2 separate regions of the Homo sapiens genome follow, and region 1 is reported to be linked to region 2. Evidence: microRNA targets listed by miRTarBase, many of them from high-throughput screens and not tested one by one. Region 2 holds a microRNA gene; the other region holds the end of a gene's coding sequence.

Region 1 (3,417 bases), not on the chromosome of region 2:
TGTGAGTACACCCACACAAGAAAGCAAATTAATCAGTTTTAAAAAATCTGATTATCACATTGCAAACTCGCCCAGGAAAAACAAACTGAGTCATTTAAAATGTAAATTTACCATTAACAGGCCAACTGGACCCTAATTCGGTTTATGCATTAAAAGATTTAGGAAATACAAAGACATAGTCAAAACTGATTCTAATACTCAGTTGGGTCCTATACATGGCACTAGTAATGTCAAATTACTGGGTGGAGTGGGGCAAAGAGGGCAAATTCTTAGATTCTTTTAAGATTTCATTGTACATATCTCATGTCCAGTGTCCATACATTCAAAAATGTTGGTTTTCCAGGTACTTTACTGTTCTTTTAAACCTGGAGAAGCCTCTATGGCTTATTCCCTTAGAAGCAACAAATGAAATGATGTATAAAGCATCAAGTCAAAGATACAGAGAACTGGACACATCCACTAATTGTTATGACAATCAAAGAAGTCATCTCCGTAAATACCTAAGGGTTGTCTAAGGCTATAAAGGTCAATTTGAAAGCCAGTTAGGGATCCACCGTGTTTCATAAAAGTGTCTTACACTCATGTTTGGCTTTCAAGAAGTGATATGCCTACTAAAGCTGTTATTTTGAGACTATATGCATCTCAGAAGTAATTTTGAAAATAGAGCCAAAGAGCAGTTTTTCTTACCTTGTGGAGCAGAATGTTAACTAATTTCTCATTCATAATTTGAATCCAAAAAAGTTATGCAGTATGACATCTACCCTGAAGGAGCCGTTTTAAGCAAAACACAAAATGAAAAAATTCACTCATTGGAAAAACTGCGTAGCTGGTTTTTTCCCCAATGAAATGATTACAGAATTAACAAAGCCAGAACATCTTCAGAAGGCATGCATTTCACTTCCAGTTTAGAGAAGAACCTTAAGTCAATAAATCATGTCCAAACTACATATTAAAATGTTTATAAAAAGTAAGTTTTAACATTTATTTCTAGCTTTCCACATGTGTGTGCAGACAAGGAATAAGATTGCACGTAAGTGTAAGCAGTGCAAAAATGTGGAAGTGGAGGAGTCACAGATGTGCTAGAACTTTAAGAAATAAAGCAGTGAACAAAATCAAAATAAACAGGAAAAATGTAAAACTATGGGATCAGAATTAGGAAAGGTGAAGAATGGTAATGCCCTTGTTACTACAGAAGTTAAATCAGTGGCACAGATAGCACTTGTCAAACAAAAAACAATCCAATAGCATTGACTTTTATTCATTCATGTTAAGTCACCTGAAATGATATCTGTTGCATTTAAATGCTCATTAATGTAAATGGCTGAACAAATCCATTTCAATGGATACTCAATATCCCACATAGATAAGTCACTTCAACACAGCCTCATGACAACTCCCACACCAAAACAGTACTTTATTTTGCAAATTTTGACCCATTATTACTCCCATGTTGTTTTTTTTCAGCTGTCAAGTGTACAAGGTGAAGAGAAATTTCAGTTAGACAGGGGCTGCACCTGGAAAATAAATTTCTTAAACTCCATAAACACATTTCAAAACTGCTGGGTCCCAAAAGTCCATCTATGAACTCTAGGGCTGCCAGTATCATGTGCAGCACATTAAAGCTACACTATCCAAATAGCTTATTAATTCTGCATAAATCAGGTCAAGCAATGTGTCAACCTGTAACAGACTGTGCACTTTAACTGAACATGGCAAAATATTCACTCTTTCGAACTTTACATCATCATTTGATGTCAAACAATGAAGCAAATCCCAACAGTATATACAAAAAACAGCTTTGCATTTACAAAAGATTGTTTCCCATACTGATTAATCCAGGCAGCTAACTCATTGGTTTATGCAACTTTATTGAAGAAAAATAAATCAATTACTAGCAGAGCTATTAGTTGATCACTCATCCATTGACAACTTGCATCATTTATTCAGTGCTATATTAAACAGTGTATTGGAAGATAGATTAACTAATAGCTCCAAGCCTCCTAACAATTTAAATGAAAATTACAAAATGTTTGAGACCCTATTTTGGAATACAAAGGGTGTTTGACTTCCAATTTCCATTCTCTGTAGAACAAGAACAGGTCATTCCTTTATTGACATGCATAAAATACATCACATTTTCTGTTCTGCTGATGCTATAAATTCAATACCAATTCTCCAGCCACATCAGTTATGAGCATAAAGCATATCATGTAACCTCAAATCTCTAACAGTGGAAGGCTTAAACAAGAATGGATGCTGCTAGAATAATGCTGTATCCTTTGATGTGACAACTGAGCATCCATCTCCCTCCCCCTCAGATGATTTCTTCAGCATGTTAGAGCAGTGAGGAATGGTTTTAGTCTCATAACCAAGTTAGAGTGAAGACATTGGCCACATAATACACATGCTCCATTTTTTTTTTTAAAAATTCTGAGTCTTGGGCAACTGTTCTCTTGTAACTACTTTACAGTTTCTAAAAGCAGTTATTGTCCAAAGCTGGAAGAACTTAAGTCTTCTCAGATGAGCATGTGAATGAATGGAGGGAGGTAAACAAAAAATAAAATTAAAAAAGATGAGGTCTGATAGGGGAGCAGCCGGATAAGAAAATCAAAAAAGGAACAGTAATTTAAAGTTTATTCCAGCTATAATGCAGGTTATTCTGACTTTAAGGTAGCATCACATGGCATACTTCTGAGTCCATTCCCGAGATATTCTGTTGTACCTGTAAATAAAGATGTTATTTTTAAAAGTTAAAATAAAGAATTCCTAATACTTTAAATGGAAGGGAAAGATTTCCATTTTATCATCTCCAGACTCATCATGAAGTCATCTCTAATGACTATGATTAGAATAAAAGCCAACAAGGGAGAAATAGCACTGGTACTCAAAGCAATGTGGGAAATGAGAGCCTGATGCTCTGAAAGTAGTATTTTAAAAACAACTAAGAAAGCAGCACTGAAAATTGGGAGGCTAACAAAAATCAAAAGACCCTTTCTTTCTCTACCACCGAGCTCATGCTCTAATTTTAACGTGAAGAAATTTTTACAGTTCATTATGGACAAATGTTAAAATAGTATACACATTCTATCTATCCACAGAAATTTCCACCAAGGCCAGAACTAGGCTTTTACTAGAACAATTTTATCTGAATCCTAGAGTTTGGGAAATTACTTGGTCCTGGATATTACAAGAAAAAATGGCTTTGGGACTTAGGTAGAGGCAGAAGGGGAAGATGACACTGGGCAGAATGACAAAGGGCAGTAATTTTCAAAAGGGGTGTGTGTGTGAGTGGTTGTGTTCATCAGAATCACGTGTTACTTTTAATAAGTGTGGTAACTGAGGCTAATAAGCACCACTGAGACCTGTTGAGTACAACAAGGGCATCTTCGTTTAAAAAGATCAACAGGTAATTCACAC
Region 2 (3,417 bases):
GCATCTCCTCACCTGCGTAAAATTGTCTCAGCTTCTGTTGTTTCTCAACTGAGGTTCGTAAACCCATCAGGATAATCCCTGGAGGGAATAGATCCTTGCACATCCAGGGCAAGAAACATGTCCAAGTTACCCAGACCATTGATAACAGTTGCATTTAGGTTGCACCTGGGTAATCTGGCATAAAAGATCTCTCTAGGCCTCACTGTTGCGGTGTCTATCCCTTCACCTCCATTGAAATCAGCATTTTGGATCTAGGTCTTCATGGAATCCTTGAGAAGAGAGGCCTTTACAATTACCCAGTTCTGAGGGTTCAGGTTCACGAAAAGAAATGCAACTTGGGATAATCATGAACAGGTTAAAGATAAGATTTCAAGAAGCCATCTAAGAATACAGAACCAAATTGGATCCATTTTTTTAAAAAAATGGTTTTGCATGGAACCTGGACCAAGGCAAATGTCTTTTCTTCGCAGAATTGTTTTCCAGGATGCCAGTGGATTCAGATAGCAATGCTTGGAGTAGAATCCGTTACTAAAATAGTTTCAAAGTTGACAAAAAATTTTCAAAGATAAAAGCAGTTTTACATTGGGGGTTGCTGAGGTAGGCACAAGAAAAAGTCAGGCATAAAGCACAAGGCAGACTGTTTGAGTGGATTGGTTGCTGCTCACTAAAGTTGTTCCCCTGATCTCTAAATATGGAGGTCATTACCAAGAAATGCTTTGGTATGAATGAGAGCCAGATCTCCACTGTGTGAGCCAGTGAATTATGGCTAATTCGGCTGTTACAGCCACTGGTTGGCTGGATTTTAAACCATAAAACTTGAAGATTACCTACAAAAGTAACAGTGTGGCTATAAGCCTGAGCTTTAATGGATATACATCCTCACAGAAAAGTTGGAAATAACCAAAACTGAAGTCTTAATTTACCTTCAGTTTAATCTGTGGATTTGTTCAAATACTAAAGATCCTCAGGTCCAGAATTCCAGCATCATTTATTCTTTTAAAATTTTTAAGAACTTGATCCATTGTATCAGTACCTCACAATCAGAGTTGGCAAATGATGGATGAGTGATTCAAGCAGTGCACCCGGTGGAAGCTGAAATCCATCTGTGAATGGAACTGAAGTGAACGTGAATATGCTGACTATATCCTGGAAGCATTTTTATACCATCTTGAAATTTCAACAAACTGGCTTTTGCCAGTTAATCCAGCTGTCTTTCAAGAATAAAAGTTGGGGTTTTCAAGGATCGCCTCTTCTATATTTTAAATGGATTTTCAGTAGAAATGATTTTTACTAATCAAGTTAATCCCACCCCATCAAAAGGTATTCCTAGAAATGTCATAGACCTAGGTAACTTTGAATTGAATGGGAGCTAACGTTCTTTCCAAAGTTTTCAGGTATTCTTTGTGTGACACCTTCTCAACCAGGAGGCAAGTAACCCCGCCTCCACAATCTTAGTATTTTTTTTAAACTGCATGCCTGCCCCTTATTTGAGCTGCCTTTTTAATTTATTGCATATCCTTTTTATTATCTTATTTTGGTATTATTCAATCTATACAATCTTTTTGTATTTATTGGGAAATGAGTAATATACAAAAAGGTTTTCATGTATTTGTGGCTGAGAGGGCGGGAAATAATTGTGTACATAAAATTAGGCTTTTTTAAAAAAATAGATTATGATGCAGAATATTGTTGATCTTAGATTAAAAAGTGGAAGAGCCACAAACATTGGTGCCCTTTTCAGACTATTTCTCTACTCTCATCATCCACAGTAGAATTTTTAAACAGATTTTTTTAAAGCTTTTCTTTTAAATTTTTCTCCGTTGCAAAGAATGTTTCCTAAATTGTATGGGAGCAATAGTATTTTTGATGTTTTAATGACATCCGTATACTTGTACTGTATTTTGTACTACAAGGCAGCTGTTTTTCAATAATGTCCTGCTGTATTTACCTACGTGTTTTGAGTGTCTATTTCTTTGCTGCGGAGAACAAATTCCTAAATAGTTTTAGTAAAGGAGCTGAGAAGCTAGCATTAGGTTTGCAGAAACTATTTAAGTTTCAACTCTGAGGCAGCAATGAAAATTTAAGTTGCAGCTATTAGTTGATTGCTGTAACTTTTTCATTTTCAAACCATGTACAATTCTTGTATAGACCAACTTGTTTTCTTGCTTCAGTGGTGGTTCTGTTGCTCAGCTGCAGTGAGCCAGTTCAATTTTGCAAAGGTGCAGTACCTCTCCTTTTTAAGGGGTTGGTTTATTCTTTTTTCTTTTTGTTTGGCTGAATTGCAGTAACTAGCCTTGCCTTTCTATTCTGTAGAAATGACAGGGTCTTCACAATCCTTCACCAGTGGCTACTAAGCTATAATTAGCTGAATAGAAAGAATGTGGAAGTGGTCTGAGGCATATAGAGTATATGCCAAGAACACTACCATATATGGCATCAGCTTTGGTTACCAGAGAAATTTTCTTAGTCATTAGACCATGTAACAGTAATATATCATATGTAAATCTTTAGATATCAATTTGAAAATCCTCCAAAAAAAGGAGCAAAGAATGCATAAGCTATGTGTTGGCAAAAGTAATTTATATTAAAATTTTGACCTGCCTATGTAAGATTAAGTGGTAATGTCATAGTGGTGGGTTTTTAAGTCTTAACCAATCTCTAAGGTTTGTTTCTCCTGCAAGGGATGGTTCATGGCCTCTCTTCCCACTGCAGGAAGATTGCAGAAGGCTGTGGATTAATTGTAGCATTTCACTGATCTTCACTCCAGTCACTAGGGACAATAGAAACCTGCAAAACACAGATTCATTCGTAAATATTATTAATAGCTTATTAAAGGAAATGGTCTTTGTTAATTCCAGTCAGATAATGGCATTGTACAGACATGGGAAACAACCAATTTTTTTGTTTTTCAGTTGTTGCTATGAATGATTTTGAGCCTTTTTTTTTAAGCTTGGCAAACATCCCAGCTAATCAAAATAGTCATATTCCTGAGAAGTAGGAAACTAAAACTTCTTTTCATATAATTGTTAGAAGGTTTGTTTCCCAAACTACCATAGTTACAAAGGTGAAAAGCCAAATTTTAGGAACAGAATCAAAAGAATAAAAATCTGTGAAGAGATCCTACTACTCTTCCTTCTATGTTTTGGTTTTGGTTTCTATTGTCCCTATCATTTCAGCAAGTGGAACAGCAGCAAGTTTTTCAGTGCATATGCTGCACAAGAACAAAATATAAATCTGTATGGCACCAAAAATCAAAGTGAAAACCAAACCAAAAACCCAAACACCCTATGTAACTATCGGAGGCATATACGTGGTATAAATGACTGTAGCTGTGATACACACATGGCTACTTGTCACATCACTTTCCATAATTATTTACTGCAAAATGATTGAGAGGCTTTTGGTGCAGGCAGCCGT

The links. The annotated mature microRNA hsa-miR-4657 reads AAUGUGGAAGUGGUCUGAGGCAU and lies in region 2 at 2,378-2,400, shown strand. An mRNA with a match to its seed (bases 2 to 7 or 8) in the 3' UTR can be bound and repressed. Matches are read on the target gene's strand: a 7mer-m8 pairs with bases 2 to 8, a 7mer-A1 pairs with bases 2 to 7 and ends in A, and an 8mer does both.
Region 1: the mRNA of UBE2D3 is a reported target of hsa-miR-4657. Seed matches in the 3' UTR shown: 7mer-m8 at 1,052-1,058.

Annotation. Positions count from the first base shown.
Region 1 is chr4:102,794,739-102,798,155 of GRCh38, forward strand. UBE2D3 (ubiquitin conjugating enzyme E2 D3) reads right to left here. Exons shown (of 8, transcript NM_181891.3): 8 at 1-2,722. The coding sequence ends at 2,677. The region is part of intron 4 of LOC102723704 (a long non-coding RNA gene); the gene reads left to right. Among named protein-coding and RNA genes, the nearest start is that of UBE2D3, 31 kb to the right of the region's middle.
Region 2 is chr7:44,880,761-44,884,177 of GRCh38, reverse strand. It overlaps MIR4657 (microRNA 4657), which reads left to right and starts at 2,378; the gene lies at 2,378-2,430. PURB (purine rich element binding protein B) reads left to right here. Exons shown (of 1, transcript NM_033224.5): 1 at 1-3,417.